Regions from separate parts of the Homo sapiens genome. Here region 2 is linked to region 1. Evidence: fine-mapped expression QTL. A gene starts in region 1. The other region holds a variant in brackets. All regions are shown on one strand. Distances are from middle to middle. Region 1 holds the start of XG (Xg glycoprotein (Xg blood group)). Region 2 overlaps XG (Xg glycoprotein (Xg blood group)).

Evidence for each region. PIP is the estimated chance that this variant, and not a neighbour inherited with it, causes the effect.
Region 2: its variant is fine-mapped to the expression of XG in liver (GTEx, PIP above 0.99).

What each region holds. Positions count from the first base shown.
Region 1 is chrX:2,746,813-2,756,282 of GRCh38, forward strand. XG (Xg glycoprotein (Xg blood group)) reads left to right here and starts at 5,228. Exons shown (of 11, transcript NM_001141919.2): 1 at 5,228-5,523. The coding sequence starts at 5,463.
Region 2 is chrX:2,812,154-2,821,623 of GRCh38, forward strand. XG (Xg glycoprotein (Xg blood group)) reads left to right here. Exons shown (of 11, transcript NM_001141919.2): 11 at 2,211-4,347. The coding sequence ends at 2,227. Among named protein-coding and RNA genes, the nearest start is that of GYG2, 12 kb to the right of the region's middle. The variant A/G (reference allele first, on the strand shown) is at 3,447.

The DNA.
Region 1 (9,470 bases):
GACACACCCAGGATCAATACTTTGTGTCAATCAATCCAATCAGGTTAACAGTCAGTATGAACCATCACAGGCAGTGTCTACAAGCAATGAAACATGCACACACCTTTCTACCTAATTCCTGCCCATTCCTGACCAACGCTCCTAAGAAAGGAATAGATTTGATTTTTTTCTTGATTTTATATCTTAAAAACCTGTTGTATCCATGTCTGTATGTGTGCCAGGGTGAATCACAAAGTCAGGAAGTTAGTGTGACGCAGAATAAGGATATCTTTATTCTTTTATTTTTTATTACTTTTTATTTTGTTTTTGAGACAGAGTCTTACTCTGTCCCCCAGGCTGGAGTGCGGTGGCCTGATCTAAGCTCACTACAACCTCCACCTCTCCGGTTCAAGTGATTCTCCTGCCTCAGCCTCCCAAGTAGCTGGGATTACAGGCACATGCCACCACACCCGGCTAATTTTTGTATTTGTAGTAGAAATGTGGTTTCACCATGTTGGCCAGGCTGGTCTCAAACTCCTGACCTCAGGTGATCCATCCGCCTCGGCCTCCTAAAGTGCTGGGATCGCAGGTGTGAGCCATCATGCGTGGCCTAGAATATTCTTATTTCCAATTTTACAGCAACAGAATGTCTTCTGTCTTGTTTCTACTTTAAAAAAACAGTTTGCTAAAGCTTTCTTTGTAGTGCAGTTGTGAATTTTCAGGAGCATCCCATGAACATTGAAAAGGAGATGCATTCACGCTTTTTAAGGTTATCGAGGATGTGAAAATTAAAGTCGGCTTTGTAAATTCTGCCATGTCTGTGAGCTCCCAGCATTTGATCAGCTGAGGCTTCGAGCGGTGAAGTAGAGTGCTTTTCCCCTAACGTGCTCTGATCTGGAGCCTGCGTGTATTACCGCTGGGCACACGGCCTGCCCTGACCATACTTTAGTGAAGCAGAGGTGATAAAACTGGGTTTCCCAGGACTCCTGCAACACACAGCTTTGATGTCGGCAAACTAGAACCCGGGAGCCAAATCTGCCCACGGTGTGTTTTTGTACAGCTTTCGAGGTAAGAATTTTTTTGTATTATTGTCGTTATCGTTGTTTTGAGATGGCGTCTTACTCCGTCGCCCAGGCTGGAGTCCAGTGGCATGATCTCGGCTCACTGCAACCTCCGCCCCTGGGTTCAAGCGATTCTCCTGCCTCAGCCACCTGAGCAGCTGGGACTACAGGCATGCACCACTACGCCCGGCTACTTTTTGTATTTTCAGTAGAGACAGGGTTTCACCATGTTGGCCAGGTTGGTCTCGAACTCCTGGCCTCAAGTGATCTGCCTGCCTCTGGCTCTCAAAGTCCTGGGATTACAGACATGAGCCACGGTGCCCAGCCAAGAATGGTTTTTACATGTCTGAATAATTTTCAAAACTCCAAAGAACAATAATATTTTGTGATGCATGAAAATTATGTGACACTCAAGTTTTTATGTTCATAAAGTCCACTTGGCGCACAGACATTGGTTACATATTGCAGCAGAATCCATATGGTTTGCAAAGATAAATGCCTTTACTATCTGACCTTCTGCAGAAAAGCTTGTCTACTCTTGCCTCAAGAAGCATGTAAAATACTTACAACACTGGCACGTTAGGCATGCTGGAAATCGTAGCAATTATTTTGCACCTTCACTACATCTGAGAGGATTTCCTGAACTTAACCATTTAACCTAACTCCTCACTACCTTTTGGGAAACATTTTTTTTATTAAGGTGAAATTCACAAATCATAGAATTAACCTTTTTTTTTTTTTTGACCCGGAGTCTCTGTCACCCAGGCTGGCGTGATCTCATCTCACTGCAACCTCTGCTTACCGGGTTCAGGCAATTCTCGTGCCTCAGCCTGCCAAGTAGTTGGGATTACAGGCAGTCACCACCACATCTGGCTAATTTTTGTATTTTTAGTAGAGATGGGTTGCATCATGTTGGCCAGGCTGGTCTTGAACTCCTGACCTTAGGTGATCCACCCGCCTCAGCCTCCCAAAGTGCTGGGATGACAGGAGAATTCACCATTTTAAAGTGAACAATTCAGGTTGCTTGCTGCTTTCACAGTGTTTTGTGGCCACCACTTCTACCTAGTTCCAAGATATTTTCACTGCCCCCAAAAGAAATCCCATTAGCAGCTGTTTTTTATATTGGCTTCCTGGGGCTGTCATAAAAACATGCTTCAAACTAGGTAGGGGGCTTAAAAAACAGACAGTTAAGCTGTCACAGTTCTGGAGCATAGAGGTCTGAAATCAAGGAGCAAACAGGGTGGATTCCTCCCTCCGTCCCTCCTTCCCTCCCTCCCTCCCTCCCTCCCTCCCTCCCTCCCTCCCTCCCTTCCTGCCTTCCCTCCTTCCTTCCTTTCTCTTTCTTCCTTTCCTTACCTTTCCCCTTTCCCTCCCTCCCTCCCTCCCTTCCTTCCTTCCTTCCCTCCTTCCTTCCTTCCTTCCTTCCTTTCCTCCTCCTCCTTCTTCTTTCTTTCTTTCTTCCTTTCTTTCTTCTTTCTCTTTCTTCTCTCTCTCTCGCTCTCTCTCTCTTTCTGAGTCTCACTCTGTTTCTGTTGCCCAGTCTGTAGTGCGGTGGCACAATCTTGGCTCACTGCAACCTCTGCCTCCCGGGTTCAAGCAATTCTCCTGCCTCAGCTTCCCAAGTAGCTGGGATTACAGGCGCGCACCATCGTGCCTAGTTAATTTTTGTATTTTTAGTAGAAACGGGATTTCACCATGTTGGCCAGGCTGGTCTCGAACTACTAATCTCCAGTGATCCGCTCACCTCAGCCACCCAAAGTGCTGGGATTACAGACGTGAGCCACCGGGCCCAGCCAGCAGGGCTGATTTCTTCTGATGCTGTGAGGTAGAATGGATTCCATGCCCCTCCCATTGCGTCCAGTGGTTTGCTGCCAATATCCCTTGGCTTGTAGGTGCATCACCCCAATCTCCCACTTCATGTTCCCAAGGCCTTCTCCCTGTGTGCATGTCAGTGTCCAGATTTCTCTCTTCTTTTAAAATACCAATCATATTGCAGTATGACCTCATCTTAACTAATGATTAGGTTGGTGCAAAAGTAATTGCAGTTTTCACCTTCAAAAGTAATGGCGAGGAGCTGGGCACGCTACCTCACGCCTGTAATCTCAGCACTTCGAGAGGCCGAGGTGGGCGGATCACAAGGTCAGGAGTTCGAGACCAGCCTGGCCAACATGGTGAAACCCCGTCTCTACTAAAAATGCAAAAATTAACCAGGTGTGGTGGTGCATGCCTGTAATTCCAGCTACTCAGGAGGCTGAGGCAGAAGAATCACTTGAGCTCAGGAGGCAGAAGTTGCAGTGAGCTGACATCACGCCACTGCATTCCAGCCTGGGTGACAGAGCAAGCCTGTGTCTCAAAAAAAAAAAAAAAATTAATGGTGAAAACTGCAATTACTTTTGCACCAAAGTAATACATCTGCAAAGATCTTATCTCCAAAGAAAGTCACATTCTGAAGTACTGAAGGGTTGGGCTTCAATATATGAAGTTTGCGGGAGAAAAAATGCAACTCATAATATATCCATTCCCACGTCTTTCCAGCCCCTGGCAACCGGCAATGTGCTTTCTGTCTCTGCAGATTTGCCTGTTCTGGACATTTCAGAGAAATGGAATCCTACACAATGCGTTCTTCTGTGTCTGTTTTCTCTAACTCAGCATCCAGTTTTTGACGTCCATCCACTTTGTAGCAGATGTCACGGTGTCAGTCCTCTTTAGGGTCAGGGGACTTTGAAGGAAATATCTTTCTAAATGCATCAACTGCTTCCTGGACTCTGCCACTCAGAGCTTAGGACTGCACAAGCTAACTGCCTTAGAGCATTTCCCCCATATGCACACACACACACACATGAACACACATGCACACGCACACATGCACACGCACACACGCACACACACACAGACAGACACGTGCACACACACACACACCTGTGTGCACAGGAACTTAATCCATCCAAGTAACTTACCTTTATAAAGATGTTGCAGTCCAGGCGCGATGGCTCACACCTGTAATCCCAGCACTTTGGGAAGCCGAGGCAGGTGGATCACTTGAGGTCAAGAGTTCAAGACCAGCCTGGCCAATGCAGTGAAACCCTGTATCTACTAAAAATACAGAAATTAGCCGGGTGTGGTGTCGGGTGCCTGTAATCCTAGCTACTCGGGTGGCTGAGGCAGGAGAATCACTTGAACCTGAGAGGCGGAGGTTGTAGTGAGTTGAGATCACACCACTGCACTCCAGCCTGGGCAACAGAGTGAGACTCTGTCTCAAAAAAAAAAAAGGAAGATATTTCATAGAAGACAACTCCCAAACACCAGGTCAACAACATGAACAGACTTAACACTCCAGATGCTCAAATTTGCAGAGAGAAAAGTCCAAGGTTTATTTCTCCTTTTGGGTCTGTTTGCCATGAATCCTGCTTCTCTGGGAATTTAGAAGCTGCCCTCATAACTAAGACTGATTTTCCCCTTTCTCCTGCAGTTAATCTATTTACCAGAGGACTTCAAAGCTGTTTGCAAATGGTAACTTTTTAAGTGCTTGCCTACTGCTTCATGGTAGGTAGAGTGTAAGGGTTAACCCACGAGTTGTATATGGATAAATTAGACACACTCACAGATCTGCAGGGAAGAATATAATTAAAACCATTGTGAAAGCAGGAGTCATCATCGAACTCAGCTATCCAGTCATGTTTCTTCTCCAAGGAGATTTCAAACAGAAGATGTAAATTTTGGTAGTTACATAAAATGTCTCAGATTTAAATGAAAGACACAAAAAGCCACATATCTCCTTTTCCTGAACAACCGTCTCTGCTGAAATATTAGTTCTGCCACCTACAAAGACAACTGAAGGCTGAGGATAAAAAATGCCTCTTGGAAGTCACTGAGTTTGTTAGGTATAAAAGCCAAGACTTCAACTGAGGTCTTTGCACTGATGTGTACATTAACCCCACACTGGGTATCACTGTACAATCATGTCCTGCAGGAGGAAGATTACAGGCGGCCAGTGTCTTCTCTGGTTTCTGGGTTGGTGACTTTGAACTTGCTACAGCTCCCACACCCGCAGCGAGCAGAGTTGCCAAGCAAGTGTGCCGGCTTCCAGAAGCCTGAGATGCCCATTGGTGCTTGGGAACCACCCCAGTTTCCCCATCGTCTGTGCTGCTGCAGATTGGTTGGGGCAGCCCGGGGAGGCTGGCTCCGACACACGACTGAGTGTGCCTACACTGGTCCCACAGGTTTTCAGCTGTGGAGTTTGGGATCTGAGCTTGGAGCCCATTTGTTTCTGGCAGTTCCGCTCATATTTTCCACTTGAAGACATCGCCTCCCTTCCTTCCAAGCTGGGAGACCAGAAGTCAACAACAGGAGGGTGGAGAGGCCGGGTCTCACAATCCGCTTGGCTGGGGAGTCCACTGAGGTTCTTGCATCCTGAAGCAAACCATGGAGAGCTGGTGGGGACTTCCCTGTCTTGCGTTCCTGTGTTTTCTAATGCACGCCCGAGGTAAGAGGCATTTTGCTTTGAGGGAGATCTGCCTGGGCATGGATTTTTCTATTCTTGCTTTAAGAAACTCTTTCCAAAGGAGTTGCTATGAAGTGAATGGGGATAATTTGCCCAATGGGATTAGAAAGGAGACTAAGAGCGATGGGTGGCTGAGAGGGGAGGGAGAAGACGGGCTGCTCCCATTTGGAATCTGGGAATTAGATCCAGAAGGGCAGGATGTTAGCTGATACCATCTAGATATTCGCCATATTTTCCTGTTTTGATCCATGTGTCCCAAGCGTTTAAAAAATGACCTATTTAACTCCATGATTCAAGCATGACTGGGTGTGTGTGGAATGTCAGTCATTTCTTTCTGATTTTAAAAATTAGTTCTGACCATTTCCATACAGTAAAAGTAGAGTTGAAACTACTTCATCCCGTGGGGCAGATTACCAGAGATTCGTTTGCCGGAAGGGTTGCATTTATTCAGATTTTTAAATCTTTTCCTAAACACTGTCATTCATTCTTGCAAATTAAAACCACCTGAATTGTTCACATCAAAAACTTCGATATAAACTTGCAGGCTGGCTGTCCCAGATCCAAGATTAGATTTTTCAGTTCCGTACGAGGACCTCTTTAAGAAACTCCAATGAACTCATAAAGTACAGGATTTGAACAACGGTTGAGTAAGTTTCTTTGGTCATTTTCATGTGGCGATTTCAGAGAAGGGAACACCTGGGCGCATCTTAAGAGAGAGAAGTATTTCTGTTAGGAGTTAAAACACATCATTCAGATGTCCCTGTGGCAGCATTTCCTGTTTATCCTATTTAAAGACATGGACGTCATTAAGATTGGAGTTGGTTGTTTATGGGCGGAGGCGGTGTCGGGATGGATAGATCCTGGTGGACATAGTCTAGGATCTGCAGTGAGAATTTTTTATTATTCTGTGCTGTCTTCAGATCTCACCTAGTAAGTGGACAATGTGGCCATGCATTCATTAGCTTCTGTTTACAGGGAGATGTTCAACAGTAAACCCACCTCCCCAGAAAAGTACTTCCAGGAGTTTGTATCATTCACAGTAAGAGCCAAAGGTTAACCATATCCCCTTGGGCAAATCAACTTCTACAAAGTGCGGATACAGACAGTTCCCAACTTACCATGGTTTGACATGATGGTTCAATTTAAGATTTTTCAACTTTACAACGGTGTAAAATTGGTATGCATTCAGTACAAACGAAAACTGTACTTTGAGTACCCATACAACTTTTCTTTTTTTTTTTTGAGATGTCGTGTCGTTTCATTCTGTTGCCCAGGCTGGAGTGCAGTGACACAATCTGAGCTCACTGCAACCTCCACCTCCTACGTTCAAGCAATTCTCCTGCCTCAGCATCTCAAGTAGCTGGGATTATAGGTGCCCACCACCACACCCAGCTAATTTTTCTATTTTTAGTAGAGACTGGGTTTCACCATGTTGGCCAGGCTGGTCTTGAATCTTGACCTCTGGTGATCCACCGGCCTCCCAAAGTGCTGGGATTATAAATGTGAGCCACCATGCCCGGCCCCATACAGCCATTCTGTTTTTCACTTTCAGTACAATGTTCAATAAATTATGTGAGGTATGCAACACCTCATTATAAAGTTGACTGTGTGCTAGATGATTTGTCCATCCGTTGGCTGATGAAAAGTGTTCTGAGCACTCTGAAGGCAGGTAAGGCTAAGCTATGGCGTTTGGTAGGGTAGTTGTATTAAATGCACTTACAACATAAAATATTTTCTTTTTTTTAATGTGTTTTAATTTTTTTGAGGGAGGGGCCCACTGTGTCACCTAGACTGGAGTGCGGTGGTTCCATCATAGCTCACTGCAGTCTTCACCCCAGGGGTTCGAACAAACCTCCCACCTCAGCCTCCAGAGTAGCTGGGACTACAGGCATTTGCCGCTGTGCCTGACTAGTTTTTAAAACTTTTTGTAGAGACGGGATCTCACTATGTTGTCCAGGCTGGACTTGAACATCTCAGCTCAAACGATCCTCCTGCCTTGGCCTCCCCAAATCTTGAGATTACAGGCATCAGCCACCATACCCTGTCCTGCGCTAAATTCTTTGACTGACGGCAGCACTTCCTATGCACTAGGCATGGATTAACTTAGTTGATTGTCCCTCAGCCCTATGACGGGAGTGTCGTGCCTGATGTCATTTTACAGATGGTGTATTAGTCAGGGTTCTCTAGAGGGACAGAACTAATGCAATAGAAATATATATAGAGAGAGGAGTTTATTAAGTATTAACTCATATGATCACAAGGTCCCACAACAGGCCGTCTGCAGGCTGAGGAGCAAGGAGAGCCAGTCCAGGTTCCAAAACTGAAGAACTTGGAGTCTGATGTTCCAGCATCCACCATGGGAGAAAGATGTAGGCCAGAAGACTAGGCCAGTGTCTCTTTTCACATTTTTCTGCCTGCTTATATTCTAGCCACAGCGGCAGCTGATTAGATGGTGCCCACCCAAATTGAGGGTGGGTCCGCCCCTTCCAGTCCACTGACTCAAATGTTAATCTCCTTTGGCAACACCCTCACAGACACACCCAGGATCAATACTTTGTATCCTTCAATCCAATCAAGTTGACATTCAGTATTAACCGTCACAGATATGGGTAAACTGAGGCACTGAGGATTTGGACGGGGGCAGCCGGCAGCGGAATCTGAGCTGTCCTGTAGCTCTGTCTGGGAAGACTCCAGTGAGCATCCCGCTCTATCCCAAGCCTTGTCTTCTGAAAATCAGAATCATCCCTCCTCCAAGTGTTACAGGAAAGGGGTCCGGATCCAGACGCCAAGACGGGGTTCTTGGATCTCGCTCCATAAAGAATTCAGGGCTAGTCTGTAAACTGAAAACAAGTTTATTAGGAAAGTAAAGGAATAAAAGAATGGCTATTCCGCAGAGCAGCTCTTAGAGCTACTGCTTGCCCATTTTTATGGTTATTTCTTAGTGATATGCTAAGCAAGGCTTGGATTATTCATGCCTCCCCTTTTTAGACCATGCAGAGTTCCTGACATTGCCGTGGTATTTGTAATTGTCATGGTGCTGGTGGGAGGGTAACACTGAGGACAACCAGAGGCCACTCTCATCACCATCTGGGTTTTGGTGGGTTCTGGCCGGCTTCTTTACTACCACCTGTTTTATCAGCTAGGTCTTTATGACCTGTATCTTGTGCAGACCTTCAGTCTCATCCTGTGACTCAGAATGCCTTAATCATCTGGGAATGCAGCCCAGTAGGTTTCAGCCTTCTATTGCCCAGCCCCTATTCAAGATGGAGTCGCTCTGGTTCCAGTGCCTCTGACACAAGTAGCGCCCCTTAGGGAGGTTACAGGAGGGACTGGAAGGAAAGTGAGGTCTGGATCAGGGCCCTTCTGTGTAAATAAGATGATGTACATGCAGCAGCTGGGTATGTCCTGGGTAAAAATTAGTTAAATGCACAGACGACCCTGTTTCATCCCCAGCCATCACCAGCTGGAAATGGGGCACATTCCCAAGATCCCAAAAACATTCTGCAAGGCTGGTGCGATGATTGCTATGAAGTACTTAAGAAAACAGATTATTGTTCAGGATCAATAGCTAATGCATGTGGGGCTTAATGCCTCTGTGACGGGTTGATGGGTGCAGCAAACCACCATGGCACATGTTTACCTATGTAACAAACCTGCACGTCCTGCACACGTATCCCGGAACTTAAAATAAAATAAAGAAGACAGAATATTGTTAATGGTTAATATGCTGTAAATCATTATGATGATTACTAAATTATCAATACAAAAGAAGATAATAGCAAGACGGCCATATTCCTAATAGAGGTTGACATTTTAGCAGCCCTACATTTCCACTGTATTTAATTAGTATTTGCCGTCCAATCCAGAGGGGCATGAAGGAGCACGAGACAAAATCAGGTCTTCTAACAGCTGAGAAGAAGCTGAGAACC
Region 2 (9,470 bases), 65 kb after region 1:
TTTGCCCAGAACCCCACCCGCAAAGAAAACTACCGAAACACTGAATTATAAGCCTCTCTGAAATTCCGAAGGTGCGCTCAGACCATAGGGGAGAGGAAAGATCTGCTGTGGCTTCCTGGTTCAATGCCGGCTCCACACTCCTGGGTTTGAAGAATCACTTGGGATTTGAGAGCAGAGGATGCCCTAAAGAAATCTCTGAAACAACAGTCAGGGATTGTTTTATAGCCTAAAGAGTGACTCAGATCTTTAACTGGGTGTCTCTGGAGGCTTGGTTTAAACCTCAGGCCACCCACGTCAGAATCTGTCTGGAGTTTGCCCAGGGCCCTCTAACTCATACCTTCTTTGTGTCCCCGAAGGAAACCAGAAAGGGGTGCCCATTCCTACGGTGTTTGCTTTAGGATTTGCATTTGGCCTCAAAAATCCTAAAACCTTCCCATGCGCTCCCTCTGCTGGTGAATGGGCAGTATCAACCGTTAGCTAATGAACCTCCGTTTGGGGTGAGCCTCCGTCTACATTACGCCCCGTCCTGAAATTTTAGGAGGAAACTGAGTTTCTGAAAAACTGCCTTATTTTCCTGGCAACCTGAGAGCAGATTCTTGGGTTCAGTGACAACACTCTTTCACCCAACATGGCAGCCATCATTAACGAACACCACGTGTTAACTTCAGTAGCTTTTGTGGCAGTGATTTGTAAGCCTTTGTTAACCAAGGGCTGAAACTGAGTAAGCAGAGAGAGGCACCCATCTCCACAAGCACAAAATGTAAGGGCGGGGTACAGGGGTCCCCCACAAACTCAATAATCAAGGCAAATATATTTTAGTGCAATATTTTAGAAGGAAAATCATTGGAATGGGGGCCAGTTGAGTTTCTGAAATAGGTGTAGTTTTAAAAACGTGGATGATGCCTGCCCCATTTATCTGAGGTGGAAGGAAGCACGTTTTTGCTAAAGAGGTATAATGTCTTGAAGCTCTTTCATGCCTTTTGGCTGCCTGGTAAGTATTTTTGTCTACTTTCTCCATTGTACTTCGATGATACCCTCACCAGGTATTCCCAAGCACCAAGTTTATCTTCCCCTCCCTTAAAGTTCCTGAGATCAGAAAGGAGGATGTAGACAGAGTGAGCTGATGTTAGGGAGATCTCTTCAAGGGTGAGCAGTGACATTTATGTGGATCCTGGGCCTATATCACCTCGCTGGCTGTAAAGCCTTTATACTATCTAGGAAATATGTGCATGACAGCAAATACGTATGGGTTTGGTATCAAATGGGGCTCAGAGCTCTGCGAACTTGACTCTAAAGTTCCAGGCTGCTGCTAATGGTACCCAGCTGTCCACCTCTCCTTAGTTAGGTCATTAATTTTCTCTGTCTCCTAAAGGATGACGTACATGGTATACTAACCATATCCATGGTGATGTGGTGCAGTGCACAACCTGTGGAACTGTGTACCTGCTGAGGCCATACACTGAAGCTTGCACACTTTGTAGAGAAAGAGTTGTAGTAACAGAGCTACACAGATAGAAGCAGATGTCTGTCACTTGATGTGGACTTTTAAGAATCATACTTTGCTTTTATTTTATAAAGTGGAGCAAATGACAACATCACTTCAGAAGTTATAAAGACCAACAAGGCCATATTCGAAAAAAGAAGTTCCTACAAATATTAGTTTTAACCAAAAAGGAAGTTACTCAATTCATTTAAGATCATCAAAATCCTTAACAAATGGCAAAATGTCAAAAACAATGTTTTCAAAACGAATATTTGTTTCCAGATATGATTTTAACAGTTTTTAAATATTTTCTATTTTTAATTTTTCCTGCTTTATTGAGGTATAGTTGACAAATAAACATTGTATATATTTAAGATGTACAACTTCATTTCTGCATCATTTATTTGTTCTAATCTATCTCCTTCTGCCGAATGTAAAGCAGGTGTCATGTAGACAGCACATAGTCTGATCTTGGTTTTCTTTTTTTTAAAATAGATTTTTCATTCTTCTAGCTTTATTAAAGTATGATAGACAAACATTGTATATATTTAAGATGTGCAACTTCATTTCTGCTTCATTTTTTTCTGTTCTAATCTTCCTTCTCCTAAATCTAGAGCAAGAGTCTCTTGTAACAGCATAGAATTGGATCTTGGTTTTCTTTTTCTCTGTTTAATAAGACTTTTTTTTTTGCCCCCACAATGACATTTGTTTCTAATCTTCCTTTCAGAACCAGAAAATGTCTGAAGATGTTAAGATCCCCTGATTACTTTGAGAAAAACAACTAAAACAAGAACCGTGTTTATCACTGTTGTGGAGATTTCCTTTTATTCTTGACACAATTTGATGACCTAAAGTGTGTTTTCTTCTGTGTAAAGTACATGAGCTGCCTCACTAAGCATTCCCAACTCATTGAATGTGATGTGGTTATAAAGATAAGTTAGGCAGCTAGACCCTGCGTTCTAAAAAAGGATTGCTTGCAATGTTGGTTTGGCTATTCATTTGCACAAAGAGACTGTGGCTCTCTGTTGTGAGATCTTCAGCTACCTCATGGTGCAATAACACACACACGCTTAACCATGTTGATGGCACAAAGCGGTGAGCAGTAGGGAGGTAGAATATCTTGGTGGGGAGGGGATGTTATCAGCTTCTGGGAGATGAAGAATATTGTTGAGGTTCCAAAGATGCTGGACCTGTGCTAAATTCTTCAGTGATATGAAAAAATCATTGAGCATTCATTATTGCGAATGAAGTGGGGATGCATTATTTCTGACACCCACAAGCAGGGTTTGATCATCCTTTCAGCTTTGAGATATCTGCACATAAAATTATTATTACCTGAAGAAAATAAGGCTGCATTTTGAAATGTTAAGTGCAAAATGACTGATGTTAAAACCATCTGGGGGAAATCTTGGGATGCTTTTTCCTAGGAAATCATATGGTTGTGATATGTTTTGGCGCATAGGAGACAGAAATAGTGATTATCAGGCGTTGAGCCTTTTTGTAGTATTTTTAGTCTTTGATACTCTGTAAGTGCTAGTTCCTAAGGCACCAACATTGCATTCCTTGGTTTATACTTTTTCTATTCATCAGGGTAGGAAGTCTTAAATCCTTAGGCATCCAAGAAGTATACTAGCTTTTTGCTTCTCTTTTAGAAATACTTGTGGGGAGAGAAAAAAGGATGGTTTGGGCATATTGGTATAGTTTGAGTAAACTAAGGTTAATGTTCATATAACATTTAGACTTTGCCATAAATATCAGAACCAAAGATCAAGACATTCATGTACAGTCTGGAATGTATATATGGGGCCCATAAAAATTCCCAGTATGCATGTTTTATGCTCACCATTATGAATTGGGGTCTTCAAAGAGAGAAGGTTGAAAGTGGAAAGCACTTGAAAGGGCTCCCCGGTTTGTAAAATATCTTTAATCATTCACATTAGGTACCTCGGAGTTGCGGGTCTCA[A/G]ATGTGGATTCATGCATCATTTGTGCAGTTTGAAGATAGTCCATATTTCCTATTTCAGTATTAGGTCCTGCAACACTTTTCAATTCTTGTAGAAGGTTTTTTTCAGGAGTGGTGATGTCTGATGCTCAATTACTATTTTCCCTATAAGAGTTTCAGCATGAGCTTAATTAAATTCTTGTGAAAAAACCTGTGTTTTTAGTTACACACACACACACACACACACCTACTTAAATGGAATCTAAACATTTTTAGCCTTTAATCCATTCCATTTTCTAAAACTGTCATAAACTATTTTTAATCATTTTAAATAAATGTAAAAGAAAAATAACTGGATTTGATTATTGAATAGTTTTTTTCTATATTTCACAAATAAATTGTATGAAATGACTGTAGAAGTGGCCCCAAAATTATGAACCTTCGTAGCTGTGAATATGATGCCATAAATCTCTTTTAAAGCTCAAGATAGACTATGAACATATGAAATACATAGTTACCTAATCATGAGACTAAATTCACCTGGGTGACAAGGCTAACGTTCAAGCTACTTAAGATGAAAATATTTGAATCATGATTGCTTGGGGGAACCTCTCTTTGAGGGGTCATGAGGACCACCTGCTGGGCATTCTGTTTTCATGCTGAGAAGGTGAGAATTGAACAGATGAGAAAAGCCTTGATAAAACGTCATCTCCATGTAATTTAGAGAAGGATAACCTTGACTGTACAGCTGACCCTTGAACAACACAGGGCTGAACTGCACATGTCCACCTGTATGTGAGTTTGCTTCTGGCTCTGCCATTACTGAGACAGCAGGACCAACCCTCCATCTACTCAATGGGAAGATGATAAGGATGAAGACCTTTATGGTGATCCGCTTCCACTTAATAAATAGTAAATTCATTAATTTTATCTTCCTTATGATTTTCTTCATAACATTTTCTTTCCTCTAGCTTACTTTATTGTAATAATATGGTATGTAATACATATACAAAATACGTGTTCAACTGTTACCAGTAAGGCTTTCAGTCAACCAGTATGCTATGAGTAGTTAAGTTTTTGGAGAGTCAATTCATACAGCCCTTGATTTTTTTTTTTTTTTCAATTAAGTTCATTTAGATGGTCAGAAATGTCAGTTAAGCGTCATTTGAAGGTAATAACTAACCTTGAAAAACTAGTGGCTTGGGTATAGTTTTCCAAAAAGTTAGGCTGGGCGTAGTGGCTCACACCTGTAATCCCAGCACTTTGGGAGGCCTAGGTGAGGGGATTGCTTGAGCCTAGGAGTTCAAGACCAGGCTGGGCAACATAGTGAGACCCCCATCTCTAGTAACGATTTAAAAATTAGCTGGGCGTCGTAGTGCACACCTGTAGTCCCAGCTACGTGGGAGGATCACTTGAACACAGAAATTCAAGACCATAGTGAGCTGCGATAGCACCACTGCACTCCAGCTTGGGCAACAGAGTGAGACTCTCAAAGAAAGAAGGAAGGAAGGAAGGGAGGGAGGGAGAGAGGGAGGAAGGAAGGAAGAAAGGAAGGAAGGAAGGAGAGACAGAGAAGGAGGGAGGGAGGAAGGGAAGGAAGGAAGGAAGGAAGGAAGGAAGGAAGGAAATAAATTTGATTCTTTTCGCCCATAAATTTGTGATGAAGCACCAGTTTTGGAAAGCTTCCCTGCTTTGGTAGAAATAGCAGATGGCAAGATTCTGATATCTTCTACTATGAAGTTCAAAGCAGTCAGAAGTGGGCAGCTTGGTTTTTCTGAAATTTATCATTCTGACATCGGACTGAGACCTAGAGGAGATTTTTTAATGCCATCTGACAGATCTAAAATACATCTTCTAAGAGTACTATGCAAAAGTGGCAGCTGTCCTGTTTGCTTGGCTTCATTGATCCAAACCACAGGGTTGACAATTTTCCTTCACATGGATACAGTGAGGGATTCTGCAGTTATATGAGGCATTTGAGTCAAGGTGATACTTGCTTCTTGATTCCACAGATGCCACTTTTTGCCTTTGAGGACTTGCTAAAGAGTTCAGACTTTTCCTACTGTATGTTTTCTGTGCAGAAGTCATGTTGTGTGGTGAGGACCATGGATTTTATTTCATTTCTTAACCTTTCTATGCAAATGAGACCTTGAGGCTGCAGAGAACAAAATTATTGGGATGCACAAATCCAAATGGAAATAGGCTCAGTTTAGCTAAGGAGGACACTTGTGTTATCTTGTGATTCTAATGACGTTCAAGCTTTAATCACAACATTTTCGTGCAAAAGGAAAAATACATATATTATATACGTGTGTGTGTATCTCCTGTAAAATAAAAACAATATATTGTATTAAGGAGGCCTTGCAGCTGTTGTCCTTATAGCTTCAGAAATTTTATTTTTTTCAATATATTATTCTTAGGTCTGTAGTATGAAAGTTCTTTTAAAATAAACTGTACAACAATTTCACAAAATATTCAAAATAAAAAAGAGGGAGTGTTTGGATATTAATTGTCACTAAATTTAATAATTAAAATACTAAAAATTTTACAAAGGGGTGACCACACTAAAATTCATATATCCCCAAAGATCTCTTAAAAATTAGATTTTTCAGGCTGGGTGCAGTGGCTCATGTCTGTAATCCCAGCACTTTGGGAGGCCAAGATGGGGGGATCACTTGAGGCCAGAGGTTGGAGACCAGCCTGGGCAACAGAGCAAGACCCCATCTGTACAAAAATTTTGTAAAAATTAGCTGGATGCAGTGGTGTGTGCCTGTAGTTATAGCTACTTAGGAGGTTGAGGCAGGAAGATCACTTGAGCCCAGGAGTTCAAGGCTGTAGTGAGTTATGATTGTGCCACTGCATTCCAGCCTGAGGAACAGAGTGAGAGCTTGTCTCTAAAAAAGAAAAAAAATAGATATTTTGAACATTGCAAAAGCCTACAATCTTTTTAATATTGATTACTTTAGTTAAATTCTTCTCCATTTAATGTGATTTTAGAAGTAATCCTTTTACATCTGGAAAATGGAGAATAATTTATTATTTCACCCAGAGAATGATAAATCAATCAATCAAAATATAGCAATCTAGAAAGCTAATAAATAATGTTCTAATTAGGGAGACCTACTGCCAGTAGGAGTAATAGATAATAACAATACTATTTGCTGAATCATTTTATTTTAGTAGAAAAATAAGCTTTCAAAGTAATTTATTTACTTATTTATTTATTTTTGAGATGGAGGCTCACTCTGTCGCCCAGGCTGGAGTGCAGTGGCACGACCTCGGCTCACTGCAACCTCCGCCTCCCGGGTTCAGGCGATTCTCCCTGCCTCAGCCTCCTGAGCAGCTGGGATTACAGGCACCCACCATCATGCCCAGCTAATTTTTGTATTTTTAGTAGAGACGGGGTTTTGCCATGTTGGCCAGGCTGGTCTTGAACTCCTGACCTCAGGTGATCTGCCCGCCTCAGCCTCCCAAAGTGCTGGGATTACAGGCGTGAGCCACTGCGCCCAGCCTTTTAAAATAATTTACATACTTTACACATGTACACATAAAAATGGATGTTGGTTGGATGTGGTGGCTCATACCTGTAATCCCAGCACTTTGGGAGGTCGAGGTGGGTGGATCACTTGAGCACTTGAGCCTTGGAGTTTGAGACCAAGCTTGGCGACATATCGAGACTCTGTCTCTACAAAAAAATTAAAAAATTAGCTGGGCGTGGTAGTACATGCCTATGGTCCTAGCTACTTCGGAGGCTGAGACAGGAGAATTGCTTGAGCCTGGGAGGTTGAAGCAGCAGTGAGCTCTGATTGCACAATTGCACTGAAGCCCAGGTGACAGAGCAAGACCCTGTCAAAAAAAAAGGATGTCAGTGATAATGAGTTGTTTATAAAGATAGAATTAGAGTTCCAGGGATGACTGGAGAGGTATAGTGTATTATAACCCCTACCATGTGCCCGTCAGGGACTGGTACTTAAAAGTCAAAACAGTAACTGCAGAATTTGAGAGGTGTACAAAGATAGTCTCTCAAATAGTGCTCAGTTATTAGTTCAGCGATGGTCAGTTTGTGCATAGCTATGAAACTAGCTTATCACGGTAAAAAGTGTGTACGCTTCACTATCTTGTAGCATTTAGTTTCCCAGCAGGGCCATGCGACACCCAGTGGACATTTCTAAATTGTACATTCAAAAAAATGTTACCACTGGCTGCAACATTTTTTTCATTAAACATAAAAGTTGGTCTTGGGGGTGTCATTCAATGCCTTTTCTGCTTCCTTCAGAATTCTAAAGGCTTCCACCACAACTTTGATCTGAGCCCAGTTATGAACTTCATACAAAGCTGCAGGGAGGAGCCTGTGTCTGTTGAAGAAAGGCTCACAAGATCCCATGGTAAGGGGAGAGGAGAAGGGGTAATGAGGAAGAAAGGCAGCTTTCCAGGGGCCGAGTCCGGAAGACCAGACTTGTCAGAGAATGGAACTAGCTTGTCCAGTCTCAGCCCATGAGAGAGTTTCACGCCACGTGCTATTCTGGTTCTGAACATTGAGCACTTGGGTGACTTGGAATGGCCTCCATCTAAGCTGCATCTTCCCCCATAGTTCCAAATATAAATGCAATGCATTCCCTGGGTTCCTGCCAGCCATTGTCACGTTTTTGCTTCACAGCTGTCTCCTCCCTGCTCCCCGTCCTATTCATCTGCCCCTTGCTAGACAGGTATTCATGAAACATGACTGCTTGTTTATGAATAGCTGGGATGTAGACATGACATACGGAAAGAGAAGCTGCCAATTTTTCCCCAACCAAAAGTGAAAACAGTGCTTGGACCTAACAAGCATAGAATGTTTGATCCCATAGCAGAGCTGGTGGGAAGGCTGGGGGCAAAATCTGACACTGTCCACCATTGGCTGTAGACCAAAGGGAGGCTGCAGACCAAAGGGAGGCCGCAGGGAGGTGAGATCATTTCAATCGCAGGTCCCCACCCACTACGAGCACTTCCTCACCCACATCCTCTGTTCTAATCTTTTCTGTCTATCTCTTATCAACTTCCAACATATGATAACGTATCACCTTTTATTGTTTCTCTCCCGGCTCCATCCCCACTAGAATGCAACTGCTACAAAGGCATGGATTTGTCCCCAGTTTCCAGAAACATGACTGGCATGTAGTAGATGCTCATTAAAGACTTATTTATTTATTTATTGAGACAATGTCTTGCTCTGCCGCCCAGGCTGGAGCGCTGCAGTGTGATCCTGGTTCACTGCAGCCTCAAACTCCTGGGCTCCAACGATCTTGTCACCTCAGCTTCCTGTGTAGCTGGCACAACAGGCATGTCCTACCATGCCTGGCTAATTTATTTATTGTTTTTGTAGAGACGGGGTCTCACTGTGCTTCCCAGGCTGGTCTCGAACTCCTGGGCTCTAGTGATTTTCCCACCTTGGCCTCCCAAATTGCTGGGATTACAGACTTGAGCCACCACGCCTGGCCCTAAAGACTTATTAAACACACGGGAAAATGAATGAATGAAGCCCTCGTTCAGGCCACAACTTTAATAATATTAAAGAGGAGATATTTTCTTTTGGTATTCTAGCTAAAGACTTTTGGGATGAGATGGATAGGGATATTAACAAATGTGTGTGTTTTTAAAAAATATACATATTATGAAATAAAACATCTGGAAGACCTCCATAACTCAATGAACCAATATTCTACAAATGACCCATGTGTGAAGTGGCAGAATCATGAATGGATAAAAGGTTTGTCTGAAGCTTAAGATAAACCTGTGGGTTTTAAATGTGTAGACTTTAAAAATTCAGTGATAGGATTTCAGATTCCACACTACCTTATCTTTGAGAAGCTATTGATGATCAAGTTTTGTCATCAAAGGAGAACATTCACAGTTATTTGAAAAGATTACTAAAATACTTTTTCTAACTATGTATCTTTGTGAGGCTAGATTTTCTTCATCTACTTTAACCTGAACAACATAAGGAATGCTGATCTGAGAAACTGGTTGTCTCCTCATAAGTCAGATATTAACAAGATTTGTAAACATGTA